Linked DNA regions of Homo sapiens. The protein of the gene in region 1 interacts with the protein of each later gene in a pairwise test. Each region holds a gene or a part of one and is shown in the gene's direction. Other genes may lie near its edges.

Region 1 (6,535 bases):
CGTCTATAATCCCATGTCTTTGGGAGGCCGAGGAGGGCGGATCACCTGAGGTCAGAAGTTCAAGACCAGCCTGACCAACATGGAGAAACCCTGTCTCTACCAAAAATACAAAATTAGCTGGGTGTGGTGGTGCATGCCTATAATCCCAACTAGTTGGGAGGCTGAGGCAGGAGAATCGCTTGAACCTAGGAGGCAGAGGTTGCGGTGAGCCGAGATCACGCCATTGCACTCCAGCCTGGGCAGCAAAGTGAAACTCCATCTCAAAAAAAAAAAAAAAAAGAAGCATGGCACCAGCATCTCCTTCTGATGAGGCCTCAGGAAGCTTCCACTCATGGTGGAAGGCAAAGGGGAGCCACGTGTACAGATCACATGCAAGAGAAGAAGTGAAAGAGAGAGAGAGCGAGCAGGTGCCAGGATCTTCTAAACAACCAGCTTTTTCAGTAAGTAATAGAGTAAGAACTCTCTTATGACTGTGAGGTTGGCACGGAGCCATTCCACGGAGCCATTCGTGGGAGGTCTGCCCCCAGGACCCATACGCCTCCTGGTAGGCCCCACCTCCAACATTGGGGATCAAATTCTTTTCTTTTCTTTCCTTTTTTTTTTTTTTGGTGACAGAGTCTCACTCTGGAGTGCAGAGCAAGACTCACTGCAACCTCTGCCTCCTGGATTCAAGCAATTCTCATGCCTCAGCCTCCTGAGTAGCTGGGACTACAGGCACATGCTACCACGCCCAGCTACCTTTTTGTATTTTAGTGGAGGCGGGGTTTTATCATGTTGCCCAGGCTGATCTCAAACTCCTGAGCCCAGGCAATCCATCTGCCTCAGCCTCCCAAAGTGCTAGGATTACAGGCGCGAGCCACCGCCACGTAGGTCTTGGGGATCAAATTTCAACCTGAGATTTGAGGAGACAAAACATCCAACCACAGCACCCTCCCATCCTGCTCTGAGGCCTCAGCTGTTGGCCTTCTCTGACTGATAGGCACAGCCTTTTCTCCTTACTGAGACCATAAAAAATGAGATATTTTCTTTATCTTCCTACTTTTTTTTACTCCATCTCTCTTTTTTTTTTTTTTTTTTTTTTTGAGACGGAGTTTTGCTCTTGTTGCCCAGGCTGGAGTGCAAGGGTGTGATCTCTGCTCACCACAACGTCAGCCTCCCAGGTTCAACTTCTGCCTCTCGGTTCTTGCCTCAGCCTCCCGTGTAGCGGATATTACAGGCATGCACCACCACACCCGGCTAATTTTGCATTTTTAACAGAGACAGGGTTTCTCCATGTTGGTCAGGTTTGTCTTGAACTCCCGACCTCAGGGGATCTGCCCACTTTGGACTCCCAAAGTGCTGGGATTACAAACGTGAGCCATCGTGCCCGGCCTAGTTAGATCACATGGCTAGTGAGTGTCAGAGCCGAATCACACCCAGGCAGGGTGGCTCCAAGTGCTGGGATTACAAACGTGAGGCACCGCACCTGACCTAGTTAGATCACATGGCTAGTGAGTGTCAGAGTTGAATCACACCCAGGCAGGGTGGCTCCGGAGTCTGTGTGACCCCCATACTCTGTTGCACAGGCTAATGCATGTCAAACCCTTAGCACAGGACAGCACAGACAGGTGCTCAGAAAAGTGTTCAGGTGGCTCAAAGTCTAGAGGGTCTTCTGCTGGCTCCTTGCAGCTCCCAACCCCTAGGTCACTCCAGCCCCTGAGTTTGTTTGTTTTTAATCATAGTAAAATACACATAACAAAATTTACTATCTTAACCATTTTTAAGTATATAGTTCAGTGTCATTAAATAGGATTAAATAGGATTACAGCTGGGCATGGTGGCTCACGCTCGTAATCCCAGTAATCTGGAGGCCAGAGCAAAAGGATTGCTCAAGTCCAGGAGTTCAAGACCAGCCCTGGCACAGTGAGACCCTATCAAAAAAATTTTTTTAATTAGCCAGATATGGTGGTGGGCCCCTGTAGTACCAGCTACTCAGGAGGCTGAGGTGGGAGGATCACTTGAGCCCAGAAGTTTGAGATTACAGTGAGCAATGATAATGCCAGTGCACTCCAGCCTGGGTGACAGAGCGAGACCCTGCTTCAGTAAACAAACAAACACACATTGTTGCACAACCATCACCACCGTTCATCTCTAGAACTTTTTGTCTACCTGTACTGAAACTCTGTACCCCTTCAGTAACTCCCCATTCCTTTCTTTCCCCAGCACCTGGTGACCACTTTTGTATTTTGTTTCTATGAATTTGACTATTCTGGGTACTGCACATAAGTGGTATCTTGCAAATCTGTCCTTTTTTTGTCTAGCTTATTTCCTGTAGCATAGTGTCTTCAAGGTTCATCCGTGTTGTAGCATATATCAGAATTTCATTCCTTTTAAGGCTAAATAATACTCCATTGTGTGTATATGCCACGTTTTGTTGATTGATCCATTGATAGACACTTGGTTTGCTTTCACCTTTTGGCTGCTAGAAACATTGGTATACAAATACCTGTTTGCTTTCAGTTCTTTGGGTGTCTACCCAGAAGTAGAACTGCTGGATCATATGGTAATTCTGTGTCTAATCTTTTGAGAAATGGCCATACTGTTTTCCATCACAGCTGCACCATTTTATTTTCCTAAGCTCCTGAGTTCTTAGGATTTCCTCATTTTCTCCATTTCCTCACCCCCATTCTAATGTTTTAAGAAAGGATGTTCCATCCTTTTCTTCCATAATCTCAGAAAGTCTTGAAAGCTGAGATGGTCCTTAGAGCTCATCTAGTCCATCTTTATCCACTTTTCAAATGAGGAAACTGAGGCCTAGAGGTGGGAAGTGGCTCACCCGTGGTCACACAGCAAAAGCCAGGATCAGACTTCTCTGCCTCCCAGGCCAGTGCCCTTTGGTGATTTCACATTTTCACTAATCCATGACTCAATTGTCAAATGAATGCAGGTGCTGTGTGTGTCCTGGCTCATGATTCCTCCTGGGAGTGAAGCAGAGGATGCCTAGGACCCTCGGATTGGGGCAGGAAGGGAGGAAAACCAGACTGGAGCTTGACCCCTTTTCTCTCTGCACAGGACCAACCTCCCTACCACCTGAAAGCCTTCAACCTGCGCATCAGCTTCCCGCCGGAGTATCCGTTCAAGCCTCCCATGATCAAATTCACAACCAAGATCTACCACCCCAACGTGGACGAGAACGGACAGATTTGCCTGCCCATCATCAGCAGTGAGAACTGGAAGCCTTGCACCAAGACTTGCCAAGGTGGGGTTGGGCTTTGCTTGGAGGAGGGACTGATACTGGGTAGAGATTACTGGAGAGGGGGTTCACAGCTTATTCTGAGCTTGAAAAGCCCCAAAGAGAGGAGATAAAAATTGTGAGTCTTGGCTGAACTTACTATGAGATAGAAGGGATGCTTCCTGGACAGACTGACCTCCTCCTGCCTCTCTTCTTATACCTGTGCAGTTGTGACAGAGGAACGTTGCTGCGGTTCATGGGAGAGGCAGCTTGGCTGCACAGGGAAGGGCTCGGGAAAAGAAAGCCCGCTGTTCCCTCTGTGGACTTTGGGCAAGTTTTCGTTCCTTTCTGGGACTCGGTGTCCTAAATGACAGTGGAGGGAACTGGCCTCATAATGATAATACCTGTCACTTGACTGAGCACTTTCGGCACTGTGCTAAAAACATCACCTGCCGACTTCATTTTTATTTCCCCAACAAGCCCGTGAGGTAGTGTTGTTTAGTAGACCCGGACATCTGAGGCATGTGAGAGGTGAAGTGGTTGCCTAAGGTCATACAGATGACAAACGGCAGCACTTGGCTGACTCGCAAGCCACATGTGGCTGTTGCAACTGAAGAACTCAATTCTTTTTCTTTTTTAAGACAGAGTCTCGCTCTGTCGCCTAGGCTGGAGTGCAGTGGCGCGATCTTGGCTCACTGCAACCTCCACCTCCCAGGTTCAAGCGATTCTCCGGCCTCAGCTTCTTGAATAGCTGGAATTACAGGCGTATGACACCACACCCAGCTATTTTGTATTTTTAATAGAGAGGGGTTTTGCCATGTTAGCCAGGCTGGTCTCGAACTCCTGACCTCAGGCGATCCGCCTGCCTCCGCCTCCCAGAGTGCTGGGATTACAGGTGTGAGTCACTGCGCCTGGCCAGAACTCAATTCTTAATTGTACTTAATTTTAATCCTTTTTGTTTTTTCTACTGAGACACGGTCTGTCTCTATTGCCCAGGCAGTTAGTTCAGTGGCGCAATCTTGGCTCACTGCAACCTCCACCTCCTGGGCTCAAGCCATCCTCCCACCTCAGCCTCCCGAGTAACTGGGACTACAGGAGCATGCCACTATACCTGGCTAATTTTTGCATGCTTTGTAGATACCAGGTTTTGCCATATTGCCCAGGCTGGTCTCAAACTCGTGAGTTCAAGCCATCCACCCATCTTGGCCTCCCAAAGTGGTGGGATTACAGGCGTGAGCCACCGTGCCCAGCCTGATTTTAATTCATTTAAATTTAGATGCCTGCATGTGGCTAATGGCTACCATATTGAACAACACAGCTCTAGAGCCTGTGGCTGAATCAGTGTGCAATCCTCCACCTGGACCAGCTCAGGAGTTTTTAACTCAGGAAATGAAAGTCCTTAGGTTGGTGGGAGTGGGAGCAGGGAGAGGAGTGGTCCTTGGATGAGCTTCAGGGGGTCTGGGAACTGTCTGTTTTGCATGTGGATGTGCACATCTGTCTCGGGAGATGGGCTGCTGCCTTCACTAGGTTCCCAAAGGCATCTGTGAAAGATGAAGAGCCAGGGGGCAGTGGTGGTTTTCAGTCTTTAGCCTTAGACCTCTTTTGCCCAAGGAAAAGTTTATTTGGACTACCAATATAATGGAGGAAAACAGAGCAGTTTTTGTTGAAATGGGGATAAGACCCAGAAACCTCACTTATCTCAGTGGCCCCTGTGATGAGGAGCTTCTCTGAAGCCATGGAATGTAGTTGTTTGAAAACCACTGATGTAATCAGTCAAGGCCTTGGGTGTCACCAGCCAAGAATGAGCGGGGCGTTTGATCTGGTCGTAGAGTAATCCTAAGCGATGTAACCTTTCCCCCAAGGAGTGAGTGTGGAGTGTCAGGACATTGGGAACGGGCAGCCATGACTCCCTTCCCTCTGCCCTGATATCCTGATCTGGCCTGTCTCTCCCCAGTCCTGGAGGCCCTCAATGTGCTGGTGAATAGACCGAATATCAGGGAGCCCCTGCGGATGGACCTCGCTGACCTGCTGACACAGAATCCGGAGCTGTTCAGAAAGAATGCCGAAGAGTTCACCCTCCGATTCGGAGTGGACCGGCCCTCCTAACTCATGTTCTGACCCTCTGTGCACTGGATCCTCGGCATAGCGGACGGACACACCTCATGGACTGAGGCCAGAGCCCCCTGTGGCCCATTCCCCATTCATTTTTCCCTTCTTAGGTTGTTAGTCATTAGTTTGTGTGTGTGTGTGGTGGAGGGAAGGGAGCTATGAGTGTGTGTGTTGTGTATGGACTCACTCCCAGGTTCACCTGGCCACAGGTGCACCCTTCCCACACCCTTTACATTCCCCAGAGCCAAGGGAGTTTAAGTTTGCAGTTACAGGCCAGTTCTCCAGCTCTCCATCTTAGAGAGACAGGTCACCTTGCAGGCCTGCTTGCAGGAAATGAATCCAGCAGCCAACTCGAATCCCCCTAGGGCTCAGGCACTGAGGGCCTGGGGACAGTGGAGCATATGGGTGGGAGACAGATGGAGGGTACCCTATTTACAACTGAGTCAGCCAAGCCACTGATGGGAATATACAGATTTAGGTGCTAAACCATTTATTTTCCACGGATGAGTCACAATCTGAAGAATCAAACTTCCATCCTGAAAATCTATATGTTTCAAAACCACTTGCCATCCTGTTAGATTGCCAGTTCCTGGGACCAGGCCTCAGACTGTGAAGTATATATCCTCCAGCATTCAGTCCAGGGGGAGCCACGGAAACCATGTTCTTGCTTAAGCCATTAAAGTCAGAGATGAATTCTGGAGTGCAGCTGAGTCTTTGATGAGGGGATGGGGTGGTTTCATCAGGACCATAGAGGACTAGGGATTTAAGCATAAATTTCTGACCTTGCTTCCCTTGAATGTTCCCTAAACATCATAAGGAATGTTGGCCATGGAAAAATAGGCCATCCTTGGACAGAGGAGCTTTCAGAAGGTCCACAGGGGTGACGTCCCCATTTTATTTTATTTATTTATTTATTTATTTATTTATTTATTTATTTAAGACAGAATCTCACTCCGTCGCCCAGGCTAGAGTGCAGCAGTGCAATCTCGGCTCACTGCAACCTCCGCCTCCTGAGTTCAAGCGATTCTCCTGCCTCAGTCTCTTGAGTAACTGGGATTACAGATGCCCGCCACCACGCCTGGCTAATTTTTGTATTTTTAGTAAAGATGGGGTTTCACCACATTGGCCAGGCTGGTCTCGAACTCCTGACCTCAGGTGATCCACCCGCCTCAGCCTCCCAAAGTGCTGGGATTATAGGTGTGAGCCACCATGCCC
Region 2 (7,024 bases), on another chromosome or scaffold:
AGAAAATAATTTTCAAGCTTGGTGACAACTCTCAACTATTTGGAAGTTATTAAAAAATTAGGCCATTTCTTATTTTAGCCAAGTATTATGTTAGTATCCTCCAGATTTTATTTTTTTAATTAGTTAGAAGAATGATAATCATATATATAGTTATATATATAAACAATGTATTTTTTTATATGTGTCATCTACGGACTTAAGGTGGAGTTTGGGGAAAGAAGAAAGCTGGCCTCTCAATACCTGTGTGCCAGGTATATATAATTTAATTCGATACAACCTTGTGAGATAGGTTTAGGTTTGATATAGTTTTATAAATGAGGAAACTAAAGTTTAAGGAAATTGAATGACTTGTTCAGGGTCATATAACTAGTAAGTGGTGGAACCAGGCTTAGAACAGGGGTCTTAATTCCAACCAATGCCAATATTCCTTCCATTCAGCCCCTGTTTTAAAAAGCATTTGCTTGTCAACATAGCCGCATTATTGAGGATGCTGCTGCTTGGGTGCATTTCATTAAGTGTAGCCTGAGGACAACATGGAGAAAGCCAAAGATACTAGAGTCTAGTTTCCTTTCTGATTCCTGTTGTTAACAGCCTCCTACCTACGTTATTTTTCTTATCTGAAATAGGTCTAATTCTTTCCTGACTTGAGAGGTTTAATTAATGTTTACACGGTGTTTTGAGATCTTCAGTTGAAAGTGGTTATAGGGAGTAACTTTAAAATTCTGTTAGTTGCCAAATAGATGCCTGAGTTCTCCCTTGGGATGTGCCTAGTGGCTTTGCATCTCTTTTTTTTTGAGACAGCGTCTCGCTCTGTCACCCAAGCTGGAGTGCAGCAGTGGTGCAATCACGGCTCACTGCAGCCTCAATCTCCTGGGCTCAGGCGATCCTCCTGCCTCAGCATCTCAAGTAGCTGGGAACACGGGTGCATGCCACCAAGCCCAGCTAATTATTATTATTAATATTATTATTATTATTTGTAGAGATAGGGTCTCCCTGTGTTGCCCAGGCTGGTCTCGAACTCCTGGGCTCAAGCTGTTTTCCCGCCTTGGCCTCCCAAAGTGCTGGGATTATTGCTGCCTCTTTTTAATGCCAGGAAAAAAAATAGCTTCTGTGTTCTTACTGGATGTCATGGTTCCCTTGTTTTGTTTTGAACAGTGTTGTTTTGTTTTGTTTTAGAGACAGAGTCTCACTCTGTGCCCAGGCTGGAGTGCAGTGGCATGATCATGGCTTACTACAACCTTGAACTCCTTGACTAAAGCAGTACTCCCACCTCAGCCTCCTGAGTAACTGGGATTATAGGCACGAACCACTGCACACTGCTCCTTTGTTTTATTTTTTTAAACAAATCGTTCTATTCTTCTGGGGCTGGTAGAGGTCATTGATAAACACTAGAAGAGAAGTCCAAGTCCCAGTTACCTCCTATTCCCATACCTGACCATCTTTACTGCCCACAGATAAAGTTCTTGCCAGCCAAATTGATCAGGTCTCCCCTCTGCCTTGTTTGTATGTGCATTTGGTAGGGTGAGGGGGGCATGTGAGCAATCTTACAGGTTCTGATCATTAGTTTTACTATAATTACTCATAATAACAAGAACACCATACATTCAGAGATTCATGATTTGTTTACAGAATATTTGTAGGATAGAGCAAAGAGTTTTGGATTTTTCTTCTCTTACACTCAAATATGGTTTTATTTTATTCATAAATAAGGGAACCAATTTCAGTGGGAAAACATTCACATTATAATTTTTTTTTTTTTGAGACGGAGTCTCGCTCTGTCACCCAGGCTGGAGTGCAGTGGCACCATCTCTGCTCAGTGCAAGCTCTGCCTGCCGGGTTCACGCCATTCTCCTGCCTCAGCCTCCTGAGTAGCTGGGACCACAGGCGCCCACCACCACGCCTGGTTAATTTTTTTTTTTTTTTTTTTTGTATTTTTAGTAGAGACGGGGTTTCACCGTGTTAGCTAGGATGGTCTCGATCTCCTGACCTCGTGATCTGCCCACCTCGGCCTCCCAAAGTGCTGGGATTACAGGCGTGAGCCACTGTGCCCGGCCTCACATTATTATTTAATATACTAAGAACAATATGGCCTAGTATAATCTTAAAACAAGCTGTCAAATGAGATAAAATTAGTTCAAAATACAAATAACTGATTTTTTATAGTTCTTTATAGTCTTCAGACTATAATCTCATTCAGACATAATTTCATTTTAGTCTCATCCAGGTGGATATTGGCGTGCATTTTATAAAGGAGAAACCAGTTCAGAGAAGTTTAAACATGGGGCCTAGTGTTTCATTGCTAATAATTGGTACAATTGATCTTTTACGCTTTTGAGTCTCTGCCCAAGTATGTCTTTTCAGAAACCCCGAAGTCAGGTAACTGTAATGTTTTCCTCTCAAGTATCCTGTTGCTAATCTTAAAACCCTTTCAGAATCTCTAGGAGACTGACGGGTGAGCAAAGTAGGCAACAGAAAATTTCCTGGTGTACAGGGGCAGATCTTCTGTACAGATGAATAAGAAGGGATAAGGCTGTCTTGACCTAAATTCTTTGTGCAGGTCCACCACTCCAGCCTTTCATTGCTGCCTCTGTCCTCTGCAGAATCCTTCCTCCCACCTGATCCCAGGAAACAGTATCAGCTATTGGCCTTCCCAGACAACTAGACTGGACCATCCCATAAACAGGAAGCTTTTTTCATCCCTAGCACATTTATGAGGGAAGATCAAGCAAGCTCTTTGAGCAAGACAAATTTCAGTCAGTGAAGGAGGATTTTTGCTTTCTGAAGCCTCCCTGAACCTCTTCTCTTGATTTGGCTCCATACCTCCTGTTCCACAACTTTTCCCTGCATTCCCCAACTCCACACCACCCCCTCCTCTTGTGCACGTACACCAACCTCCATCCCAATACATCTGTCTCAGATTTGCCAAAGTACTTGTACTAAAGGAGAACATCTGTATCACTCCCCTGCCTAAGACTATTCATTGACTACCTAACCTATAAGATGAGTTCTTATTATGTCTTTGAGAACTTATTTGATCTACCCTTATCATTTAAGCTCCTTTACAGTTTCCAACCATCTTTTTTTTTTTTTTAGATGGAGTCTCGCTCTGTTGCCCAGGCAGGCTGGAGTGCAGTGGTGCAATCTCGGCTCACTGCAAGCTCCACCTCCCGGGTTCATGCTATTCTCCTGCCTCAGCCTCCTGAGTAGCTGGGACTACAGGCACCTGCAACCATGCCTGGCTAATTTTTTGTATTTTTAGCAGAGACGGGGTTTTACCGTGTTAGCCAGGATGGTCTCGATCTCCTGACCTCGTGATCCACCCATCTCAGCCTCCCAAAGTGCTGGGATTACAGGCGTGAGCCACCACGCCCGGCCATCTCCAACCATCTTTTGATTTTATTTTCTATTTTTCACTCACATCACTATTTCCTAAGGTATGTTATAGGCATTACTTGAAAGAAAAATGTTTTGTGAGGAAATAAGCTTGGAAAATACTGAGTTAAACAAAATAAAACAAGTTTATGAGTTTCTTAAATCTTTAAACATGCTAATATGCTAATATGTAGTATAAATCTTCAATATAATGTAATTTCCCCAATTTAGATCACCAGGAAACAGGTTTTTGTTTTTTCTGTAGCATCTTTAAGGCTTAACTCAAACTTTCCCTAAACTCCTTTAATAGTTACCATGCTGGCCTGCCTTTGGTTAGTGTCCTTATTTAACCATAAACCTTATGCTCTGAATAGATTGAGAGCTCATGTCTCTAGACTAGGATATCTATATTCCAACCATTTCTACAACTCTGTGTACAAAGTCTTTCAATTAGGCTCTAGAAGAGTGTGGTACATAGATGAATTTTGATGAAAAAGATAAGAAATATGAGCAGCATAGTTCTCAGAGGAAGAATAGAGATGAAAGAGATAAGCAAGAATAGTATAGACAGGTGATCATTCAATTCAACAGACAACTTTTTTTTGAGATGGAGTCTCGCTTTGTCGCCCAGGCTGGAGTGCAGTTGTGCCATCTCAGCTCACTGCAACCTCTGCCTCTCGGGTTCAAGCGATTCTTCTGCCTCAGCCTCCCAAGTATCTGGGATTACAGGCATGTGCCACAATGTCCAGCTAATGTTTGTATTTTTAGTAGAAACAGGGTTTCACCATGTTGGCCAGGCTGGGCTTGAATTCCTGACTTCAAGCGAGCCACCCGCCTCACCCTCCCAAAGTGCTGGGATTACAGGTGTGAGCCACCACACCTGGCTTCAACAGATACTTTCAGAATGATACACTGTTGAACCCTGGGTGAGTACTGGGTATTTCAAAAAGAACTTAGACATGGTTTTCTTGATAGGAAGTTTCACCTGGTAGAGGAGACAGATAATTGATACATAGATAGATAGAAAATTATTCAAATGTCATATGATAAATACTAAAGAAAATACGGGTGCTCTTAGATAGATGAAAGAACAATAGAATTTGCATGATGGTTTCAAGAAAGACTTCACAGAGGAGCAGGCATGGTGGTGTGCACCTGTGGTCCCAGCTGCTTAGGAGGCTGAGGTGGGAGGATTAGTTGAGCCCAGGAGTTCGAGACCAGCCTGGGTAATAGCAAGACCCCATACCTGGGAAATGACTAGAGATCAACCTGAAAACGTGGACTGGATTCAGGTTGATAGGCCTGTGTAAGCCATGGAAATAAGTTTTGGGTTGAAGCACTTTTTTTCTTTTTTCTTTTTCTTTGAAGGATTTTAAGCAAAAGAGTAACCTTCCAGAATGGAATTTGGATGGAGTGGGGAATAGGGAGAGCAGATAAGGAGGCTCTTGGAGTTGTCTAGCCTAGAGATGGGTCTTAAATAGGGCAGGAAAAATGAAGATGTTAAGGGTACAGTTCATTGTGACAAGTTGGCGCATGTCTACCACCCTGATGCCTACTAGGGGTCTATTTGTAAATGGGTAGCCTAGTTATGTTACATGACTTGGGGATGGAAAGTACAGACATAATATAGGAACACATTTCTTTAACCACTGAAGTCTATTGGAGCATAATCAAATTTATACTAATGGAAATCTCTTTCCAGGGCTGAAGCTAAGTAATGCTGTGGTCTAGCTTGTCACTTTATGAAGTTTCTGAAGATTTAGGAAATTAATAAAATGAGTAAAAGTTGTATGAACTTAAGCAGCAGGGGCTGGGGTGGGCGGTCTGTAGTCTTTTTCTTTTTTATTATTTTTTATTTTTTTGAGATAGGGTTTAACTCTGTAACTCTGTTGCCCGTGCTGGAGTGCAGTGGTGCAATTTCAGCTCACTAGAACCTCAACCTCCCAGGCTCAGGTGATCCTCCCACCTCAGCCTCCTAAGTAGCTGGGACTGCAGGCATGTGCCACCACACGCCACCGCGCCCCACCACACTCGGCTAATTTTTGTTGTTGTTGTTATTTGAAGAGAGAGTCTCACTCTGTCACCCAGGCTGGAGTGCAGTGGTGCAATCTCGGCTCACAGCAACCTCTGCCTCCTGGATTCAAGTGATTCTCCTGCCTCAGCCTCCCGAGTAGCTGGGAGTAGCTGGGACTACAAGTGCACGCCACCATGCCCAGCTAATTTTTTTGTATTTTTAGTAGAGAGGGGTTTTGTCAGGTTGGCCAGGCTGGTCTCGAACTCCTGACCTCAGGTGATCCACCCACCTCAGCCTCCCAAAGTGCTGGGATTACAGGCATGAGCCACCATGCCCGGCCTAATTTTTGTGTCTTTCGTAGAGATGGGATTTCACCATGTTGCCCTGGCTGGTCTTGAACTCTTGGGTTCAAGTGATCCTCCTGCCTTTGCCTGACAAAGTTCTGGGGTTATGGGCATGAGCCACTGCACCCAGCTGTGTCTGTATTCTTCACAGCATGTAATTTTCTACACCTTTCTTTTAGCTTCTGATTAGCAAGCCTGACTGATTGGTTAAGCTAAAAGAGCAGAGTAGGAGAGATGCACCAGCATGGGACGTGGAAGAGAAGGAACAAAGTGGACAGGGCAGATTGGGTTTCAAGGATGAGGTATTTTCTTTTCTTTTTTTTTTTTTTTTGAGACAGGGTTTAGCTCTGTCTCCCAGGCTGGAGTGCAGTGGCACGATCTTGGCTCACTGCAGCCTCCACCTCCCGGGCTGTAGCCGTCCTCCCACCTCAGCCTCCTGAGTAGCTGGGACTACAGGCATGCACTACAGGCATGCACCACCACGCCTAGCTAATTTTTGTATTTTTTTTTTTTGTAGAGATGGGGTTTTGCCATGTTGCCCAGACTGGTCTCGAACTCCTGAGCTCAAGCAATCCACCCACCTTGGCTTCCCAAAGTGCTGGGATTACAGGTGTGATCCACCATGCCCAGGCGAGGTTTTTTTTTTCCAACTATTCGGGAAGAAGATTACCGTATTCAGAACTTAGGGGTTTACCACTAAAGTGGGTTTATATGAAATTTTAGGATTAGGTTATAGTACCTGGCATATAATAAGCCAATAGATACATGGATACATTGAAAAGATTGCTTTAGAGCAGAGTGATGGCCTAGGAGAAGACCTAGAATGTCCTAGGGAAGGTCAAACAACCAAAACAAGAGAGGGTCTCTGTCATTCATGCAACACAGGTATTTTGAGCATGAACCAGTATACTAGACTGAGATTAAAAAGTGGATGATATGTCTCCTTAAGTCCAGTGTGGTTTGGAAGGCAAGCATATAAACAGTTAGTTACATTATAATGTAAGTGTTATAAAATAATTGTGCACACCCACGAAGTAGGCAACGAGCTGCCTAGAGAGGTTAAGTATATTTTACAGAGAAAATGACACCTGAGTTGGTTCTTAAATGGGTACTTGTCAGGGCAAGAAGTAAGGACAAGACATTTCTAGGTAGAAGGAATAGAGTATGTAAAAGCCAGAAAGTAGGACAGAGTGTACGATGTTTTTACGCCATATATCTTTGAGGACAAGGTCTCACATGCAGTTTTAGAACGTGTTTAGCTACGTTTGAATGTGACAAGTACCTATACCTCCAT
Region 3 (7,793 bases), on another chromosome or scaffold:
TATTAACGGGAGTATTCACAAGCTGCTATCAGTATTCTTGTATTACATTTTTACAACTTCATGTTATCATTACATTAGTTGCATAATTAAATTCAATAAAAACAAAGATGAATAAGATGAGAGATATACTGATATATGCAATATGTGCTTTGTGACACATATTTTCCAAAAATGGCTACACCAACCTGTATCTCATTTTATATGCTTTGCTTATAATGCAGTGTTGGTGTTTCTCCATTGACGGTGGAGCTGCATTCCCTCCCCTTGAACCTGAGAGGATCTTTGTAACTGCTTTGACTAATAAAATGTGGCAGATGTAATGCCGTGTGACTTTGAAGGTTAGGCCACAAAGGGCAACATGGCTTCCACTTGGCTCTCACTCTCTTAAGACCCTTGCCCTTGGCCGGCCAGAGTGGCTCACACCTGTTATCCCAGAATTTTGGGAAGCTGAGACAGGCAAATCACTAGAGACCAGGGGTTCTAGACCAGCCTGGCCAACATGGTGAAACCCCATTTCTTTCTTTTTTTTTTTTTTTTCTCGAGACAGAGTCTCACTTTGTCGCCCAGGCTGGAGTGCAGTGGCACGAGTGGCGCGATCTTGGCTCACTGCAACCTCCACCTCCCAGGTTCAAGCAATTCTCCTGCCTCAGCCTCCCAAGTAGCTGGGATTACAGGTGCCCACCACCAAGCCCGGCTAATTTTTGTATTTTTTAGTAGAGACGGGGTTTCACCATGTTGGGCAAGCTGGTTTCGAACTGCCGACCTCAGGCAATCTGCCCGTCTCGGCCTCCCAAAGTGCTGGGATTACAAGTGTGAGCCACCGCGCCTGGCAGTGAAATCCCATTTCTACTAAAAATACAAAAATTGACTGGGCCTGGCAGCTCACATCTGTAATCCCAGCACTTCGGGAGACCGAGGCAGGCAGATGGCTTGAGGTCAGGAGTTCAAGACCAGCCTGGCCAACATGGAGAAACCCCGTCTCTACTAAAGATACAAAATTAGCCAGGCATGGTGGTGCATGCCTGTAATCCTAGCTACCTGGGAGGCTGAGCGGGGAGAATTGCTTGAATCCGGGAGGCGGAGGTTGTGGTGAGCCGAGATCGCACCATTGTACTGCAGCCTGGGCAACAAGAGCAAAATTCCATCTCAAAGAAAAAAAAACAGAAAAAATAGCTGAACATGGTGTGCACGCCTGTCATCCTGACATCTCAGCTACTATGGAGGCTGAGGCACAAGAATCACTTGAACCCAGGAGGTTGCAGTGAGTTGAGATCATGCCACTGCACTCCAGCCTGGGCGATAGAGTGATACTCTGTCTCAAAAAAAAAAAAAAAAAGACCTTTGCCCTTCAAATCCAGCCACCATGTTACCAGGAAGCACAGGCCACATGGAGAGATCATGCATGTGTATGTTCTGGCTGACAGCCCCAGCTAGGCCCCCAGCTGACATCACCCACCAGAAGTATGAGTAAACAACTTTGCCTATGATTCCACTCCCCAGTCTTTGAGTCTTCTTGCTGAGGCCCCCTCAGCTGTGGAGCTGAGATAAACCTTCCCATTGTGGCTTGTCTGGATTCCTGTTCCAAAGAAACCATGAGAGACTTTGTATATTTTATATGCATTCATATTTTATTTACTTTTTCTTTTTTGAGACAGAGCTACTGTGTTGCCCAGGCTGGAGTGCAGTGGTGCAATCTCGGCTCGCTGCAACCTCCGCCTCCCGGGTTCAAGTTATTCTCCCTGCCTCAGCCTCCCGAGTAGCTGGAATTACAGGCATGCACCACCATGCCTGGCTAATTTTTGTATTTTTTAGTAGAGACAGGGTTTTGCCATGTTGGTCAGGCCGGTCTGGAACTCCTGACCTCAGGCGATCCGCCCGCCTCCACCTCCCAAAGTGCTGGGATTACAGGTGTGAGCCACCACACCCGGCCCCTATCCTATTCTTATCACTTGAGTATATCACAAATAACCTTTCCTTGTCAATAGGTGCCTTAGTACAGCATTTTTTTTTCTTTTTTTGAAGACAGGTTCTGGCTCTGTCCCCCAGGCTGGAGTGCAGTAGCCCGATCTCTTGCTCACTGCAGCCTCCACATCCTGGGTCTTAAGTGATCCTCCCACCTCAGCCTCCCAAGTAGGTGGAGCTATAAGCACATCCAGCTAACTTGTATTTTTTGTAGAGACGGGGTTTCACCATGTTGCTCAGGCTGGTCTTGAACTCCTAGGCTCAAGTGATCCACCTGCCTCAGCCTCCCAAAGTGCTGGGATTACAGGCGTGAGCCACCACACCTGGCCAAAACTTTTTCTTTTTTTTGTAGACATGGAATCTCACTATGTTGCCCAGGCTGGTCTCCAACTCCTGGGCTCAAGCAATCCTCTCACCTTGGCTTCCCAAAGTGCTGGGATTACAGGCTTGAGCCACCATGCCCTGCCACCCAGTATGATTTATTTCATTTTTTTTGGTAAAGTGAAAGCAAGTTTATTAGAGAAGTAAAGAAACAAAGGAGACCAGGAGCAGTGGCTCACGCCTGTAATCCCAGAACTTTGGGAGGCCGAGGTGGGCGGATCAAGGAGTCAAGAGATCCAGACCATCCTGGCCAACATGATGAAACCTTGTCTCTACTAAAAATACAAAAATTACCATCCTGGCTAACACGGTGAAACCCCGTCTCTACTAAAAATACAAAAAAAATTAGGCGTGGTGGCGGGCGCCTGTAGTCCCAGCTACTCGGGAAGCTGAGGCAGGAGAATGGCGTGAACCCGGGAGGCGGAGCTTGCAGTGAGCCTAGATCGCGCCACTGCACTCCAGCCTGGGCAACAGAGAGAGACTCCGTCAAAAAAAAAAAAAAAAAAAAAAAATTAGCTGGGCGCGGTGGTGCGCGCCTGTAGTCCCAGCTACTCGGGAGACTGAGGCAGGAGAATCACTTGAACCCAGGAAGCGGAGGTTGAAGTGAGCGGAGATAGCGGCTCTCTCACTGCACTCCAGCCTGGGCGACAGAGCGAGACTCCGTCTCAAAAAAAAAAAAAAAAAAGTAATTGCTACTCCATAGGCAGAGCAGTCCACCCGACAAGGTTTTTGTTGTTGTTGTTGTTTGAGACAGAGTCTCGCTCTGTCCCCCAGGCTGGAGTGCAGTGGCGCGATCTCTGCTCGCTGCAACCTCCGCCTGCCGAGTTCAAGCAATTCTCCTGCCTCAGCCTCCCGAGTAGCTGGGACTACAGGCGCCCACCATCACGCCCGGCAAATTTTGTAAATTTTTAGTAGAGACAGGGTTTCACCATGCTGGTCAGGCCAGTCTCGAATTCCTGACCTCGTGATCTGCCGGCTCCGGCCTCCCAACGTGCTGGGATTACAGGCGTGAGCCACGGTGCCCGGCCACGCGGCATGATTTTTAATGGCTTTCTACATTGTATGGTTTGTTATTGTTGTTTTGAGACAGGGTCTCCTTCTATCACCGATGCTGGACTGCAGTGGTGCGATCTTGGCACTCTGCAGCCTCGACCTCCTCGGCTCAAGCGATCCTATATCACCTCAGCCCCCTGAGTAGCTGGGATGCACAGGTGTGTGCCACCTCGCCCAGCTAATTTTTAATTTTTTTGTAGAAAGGAGGGGGGTCTCACTACATCAAATTCTTGGGCTCAAGCGATCCTCCCACCTCGGCTTCCCAAAGTGCAGGGATTACAGGCATGAGCCACAGCGACCAGCCAGCACAGGTGTCTTTATTTGTTTTATTTTTTATTTTATTTTATTTTATTTTGAGACAGAGTCTCGCTCTGTCGCCCAGGCTGGAGTGCAGTGGCGCCATCTCGACTCACTGCAAGCTCCGCCTCCCGGGTTCACGCCATTCTCCTGCCTCAGCCTCCCGAGTAGCTGGGACTACAGGCGCCCGCCACCACGTCCGGCTAATTTTTTTGTACTTTTAGTACAGACGGGGTTTCACCGTGTTAGCCAGGATGGTCTCGATCTCCTGACCTCGTGATCCACTCGCCTCGGCCTCCCAAAGTGCTGGGATTACAGGCTTGAGCCACCGCGCCCGGCCTGCACAGGTGTCTTGAATATGTATATACGCGACTCCAGTATGGTTGGAAATGATTTGATTTGTTGTCTATGGAATTGCACAACCTGGAGCCTTCCTAACATCAGCGGCTTCATACTGGCATTTCCATTGTGGTGCAGCAACAATCTGAGTGAGCCTCCGTCTCTAGCCACATCATTTGACAACCGGTCCCAGAAGGTAACTGGAAGTCATGATGACAACTCCTATACTGTGAAAAGAAACTGCAAGCAAGGCAGTTAAGATGCAATCTTGCACGGTGACCGTAAGTCGGAGAACTGCGCGGCGAACGAGGCCTCGGCAGGGGAAGCGAAAGCCTGGTGTGGTTGCGGCTCTGGGGCCACCCTGCGACCGCCTCGGGGTGTAGGCAGAATTTCCCGGCCCAGCTCCCCTCTGACCAGATAGCGGCCGAGAAACAATGGTTATCTGCTCCACTGACGCCAGGATGTCTTCTCCGTGCCCGATCCCGGAGTACAAACAGTGAAATGAGAAGCCGGTGAGAAACGCGCTGGTTAAAAACATCTCGACGGGAGACGCTGGTAGGCGAATAGTGGCTCCAGACGCGGTCGGCGCCTGCCGTACCCTGGTCAGACTCTGGGTCAGAGCGCTAAGTTTCAAGGAGGCGGCGCTAAACAGGCCCTCTAGCCGGGAGCCTGTCGCGACCCGAGCGACCGTGGGTCGACCCCGATCCGGAAGTGACGCAACGGCGCCAAGCACTTCCGGAGCTGTGGGGACGACTCTTCTGGAGGAAGCAGCGCGGGCTTGACCGGCGTCGGCCCGCCGCCTCCGCTGCCGCTTCGCCCCAATCCGGTCCCTCTGGCCCGGCCTGACCCGGTCTGGCTTGTTCGGGCTCAGCGGCCGCGAGGCCGCAGCTCCCGGTAAGTGCGCGGCGCACGTCACGGCCTTGTTTACCTTGGCTGGCCGCTGGGGGGGCCTCTCCGCGCGCCTCCCTGGCCGGGCCGGGACTCCGCCTTCGCCGTCGCCCGGGAGGCCCGGGCGCTCCCCGTCGCCGGCACGTTGTCCGAGCATTACCCGCCGTCAGCGGCCGGGCGCCCAGCGTGTGTCTGCCTTTTTTCCTCCCGCCGCCTTCTCAGCTCTCGGAAAGGTCAGAGGCCACCGCCTCTGACCAACCGGCGCCGGCACATCTAGGCCCTCTCTCCCTGTCTGGCGCGGCGGGGAAACGCGCCGCCTCGGGGCTCACCACTCGAGTCATCTTTGGGAGCTCTCGCAGCGCTGCCCGCGCGGTTTAACGCCCGCCTGTGGAGGGTATCCCCAGCTCGCGGGCTCCGCGTCCGCGCGAATATCCCGGAGCCCGCGGCGCCCCTAGGGATGTGCGGCCCCGGAGCTGTGCCGCCGCCTCGCCAGAAGCTGGTTGGGCAGCCGCGTTCTTGGATGACTTCTCCTTAGTACTGTTCATTGCCTGGTCCCATAGAACTTTCTGTCATAGCGACATGTTCTTTACCTTTGCTGTTCAGCATGGTAGCTACTAGCCACACGTGGCCGTTAAGCATTTGACCTGTAGGCTAGTGCACCTGAGAAACTAAATTTTAAATTTTACTTACTTTTTAAGTGTAATTAAATTTAAATAACCACATGTGGCTAGTGGTCACCGTATTAGAAAAGACAGATACAAAGTGTAGGATTTTGAAACGAAATTGCTGATTTCTAGTTTTGTGCCAAGTCGTTTTTCTTCGGAGGTGTAGTTAGTAAATGACCTGAATTCAGCGCTAGTGATCATATCTGGAGTAAACGTCTTCAGACTCACTAAAACTTACGTGTTCTGTGCGTGGTGGGCAAGCCCAGGATGGTTGGTTGTTAGGTCCCCTGAACATGTGACTTTGGCTCTGGAGGAAATTTTTTTTTTTTTTTTTTTTGGTGGGCGGGACAAAGTTGCTGTCACCAGGCTGGAGTGCAGTGGCGGCGATCACAGCTAACTGCAGCCCCGACTTTCTGGGCTCAAGTGATCCTCCTTTCTTAGCCTCCTAAGTAGCTGGGACCACAGGCACGTACCACCACACCTGGCTAATTTGTAAAATTTTTTGTGGATACGTGATCTTAATAGGTTGCCTAAGCTGGTCTTGAACTGCTGGGCTCAAGCTATCCTCCCGGTTTGACCTCCTAAAGTGCTGGGATTACAGGCGTGAGCCACTGTGCATGACCTTTAAAAAAATTTTTTTTGAAAAAGTGCCCGGCCCACTTTTTCAAGTAGAATTCGGATATTTAACTTTGAGATGATTAAAAATTAAATTTTCATTTAAATGTGCACCTAGAACATTTAGTATGAAATGGAGTTCTCTCTCTTTTTTTTTTGGAGGAGCCTGGAGTTTTCCCCACCTAAATATTTGGTTGGTGAGAAGCCTGTGAGCAATTTCTTTTTTTTTTTTTTTTTTTGACACGGAGTCTCACTGTGTTGCCCAGGCTGGAGTGCAGTGGTGCAGTCTCGGTTCACTGCAGCCTCCATCTCCCAGATCAAGCAGTTCTGCCTTAGCCTCCCGAGTAGCTGGGATTACAGCTGGGATTACACCCAGGCTGGTTGGAGGGCAGTGGCGTGATCATGGCTCGCTGCAATCTCCTGGACTCAAATAATCCTCCTCACTTTGGGAGGCCGAGGCGGGCGGATCACGAGGTCAGGAGATCGAGACCATCCTGGCTAACACGGTGAAACCCCATCTCTACTAAAAATACAAAAAATTAGCCAGGCATGGTGGCGGGCGCCTGTAATCCAGTGAGCCGAGATCGCGCCACTGCACTCCAGCAAGACTCTCAAAAAAAAAAAAAAAGAAAGAAAAGAAAAGAAATATTGTCCCCTTGGAACAAGATCAGCACTTTTTCTTTCTTTCATTTATTTATTTTTATTTTTGAGTCCCGCTCTGTCTCTCAGGCTGGAGTGCAGTGGCGCGATCTCGGCTCACTGCAACCTCCGCCTCCTGGGTTCAAGCGATTCTCCTGCCTCAGCCTCCTGAGTAGCTGGGATTATAGGCGCATGCTACCACGCCCAGCTAATTTTTGTATTTTTAGTAGAGACAGGATTTCATCATGTTGATTAGGCTGGTCTCGAACTCTTGACCTTGTGATCTGCCACCTTAGCCTCCCAAAGTGTTGGGATCACAGGCGTGAGCCACCGTGCCCGGCCCACTTTTTCAAGTAGAATTTGGGTATTTAACTTTGAGATAATTAAAAATTAAATTTTCATTTAAATCTGCACCTAGAACATTTAGTATGAAATGGAGTTCTCTCTCTTTTTTTTTTGGAGGAGCCTGGAGTTTTCCCCACCTAAATATTTGGTTGGTGAAAAGCCTGTGGGCAATTTCTTTTTTTTTTTTTTTTTTTTTGACACGGAGTCTCACTGTGTTGCCCAGGCTGGAGTGCAGTGGTGCAGTCTCGGTTCACTGCAGCCTCCATCTCCCAGATCAAGCAATTCTCCTGCCGTAGCCTCCCGAGTAGCTGGGATTACAGGTATGCGCCACCATTCCTGGCTAATTTTTGTGTTTTTTGTAGCAGTGAGGTTTCACCATGTTGCCCAGGCTTGTTTTGAACTCCTGAGCTGAAGCCGTCCACCCACCTTGGCCTCCCAAACCAAAGTGCTGGGATTACTGGCATGAGCCACCACACGTGGTCCTGGAATTTTTCTTTTTTTTTTTCTTTTTTGAAGACAGGGTCTCACTCTGTCGCCTAGACTGGAGTGTAGTGGCGTGATCTTGGCTCACTGCAGCCTCAACCTCCTGTGCTCAAGAAATCCTCCCAC

Evidence for each region. The genes of interacting proteins can lie anywhere in the genome.
Region 2: the proteins of UBE2L6 (region 1) and RNF19B interact in binary tests that used the Homo sapiens proteins (3 or more experiments, as listed by UniProt).
Region 3: the proteins of UBE2L6 (region 1) and ARIH2 interact in binary tests that used the Homo sapiens proteins (3 or more experiments, as listed by UniProt).

Annotation. Positions count from the first base shown.
Region 1 is NC_000011.10:57,551,140-57,557,674, reverse strand, and holds the end of UBE2L6 (ubiquitin/ISG15-conjugating enzyme E2 L6), read left to right. Parts: intron 1-3,051; coding exon 3,052-3,238; intron 3,239-5,165; coding exon 5,166-5,317; 3' UTR 5,318-6,013; downstream 6,014-6,535. UniProt on the Homo sapiens protein: Catalyzes the covalent attachment of ubiquitin or ISG15 to other proteins. Functions in the E6/E6-AP-induced ubiquitination of p53/TP53. Promotes ubiquitination and subsequent proteasomal degradation of FLT3.
Region 2 is NC_000001.11:32,954,786-32,961,809, reverse strand, and holds part of RNF19B (E3 ubiquitin-protein ligase RNF19B), read left to right. Parts: intron 1-7,024.
Region 3 is NC_000003.12:48,914,073-48,921,865, forward strand, and holds the start of ARIH2 (E3 ubiquitin-protein ligase ARIH2), read left to right. Parts: upstream 1-4,769; 5' UTR 4,770-4,926; exon of another isoform or gene 4,927-5,313; intron 5,314-7,793.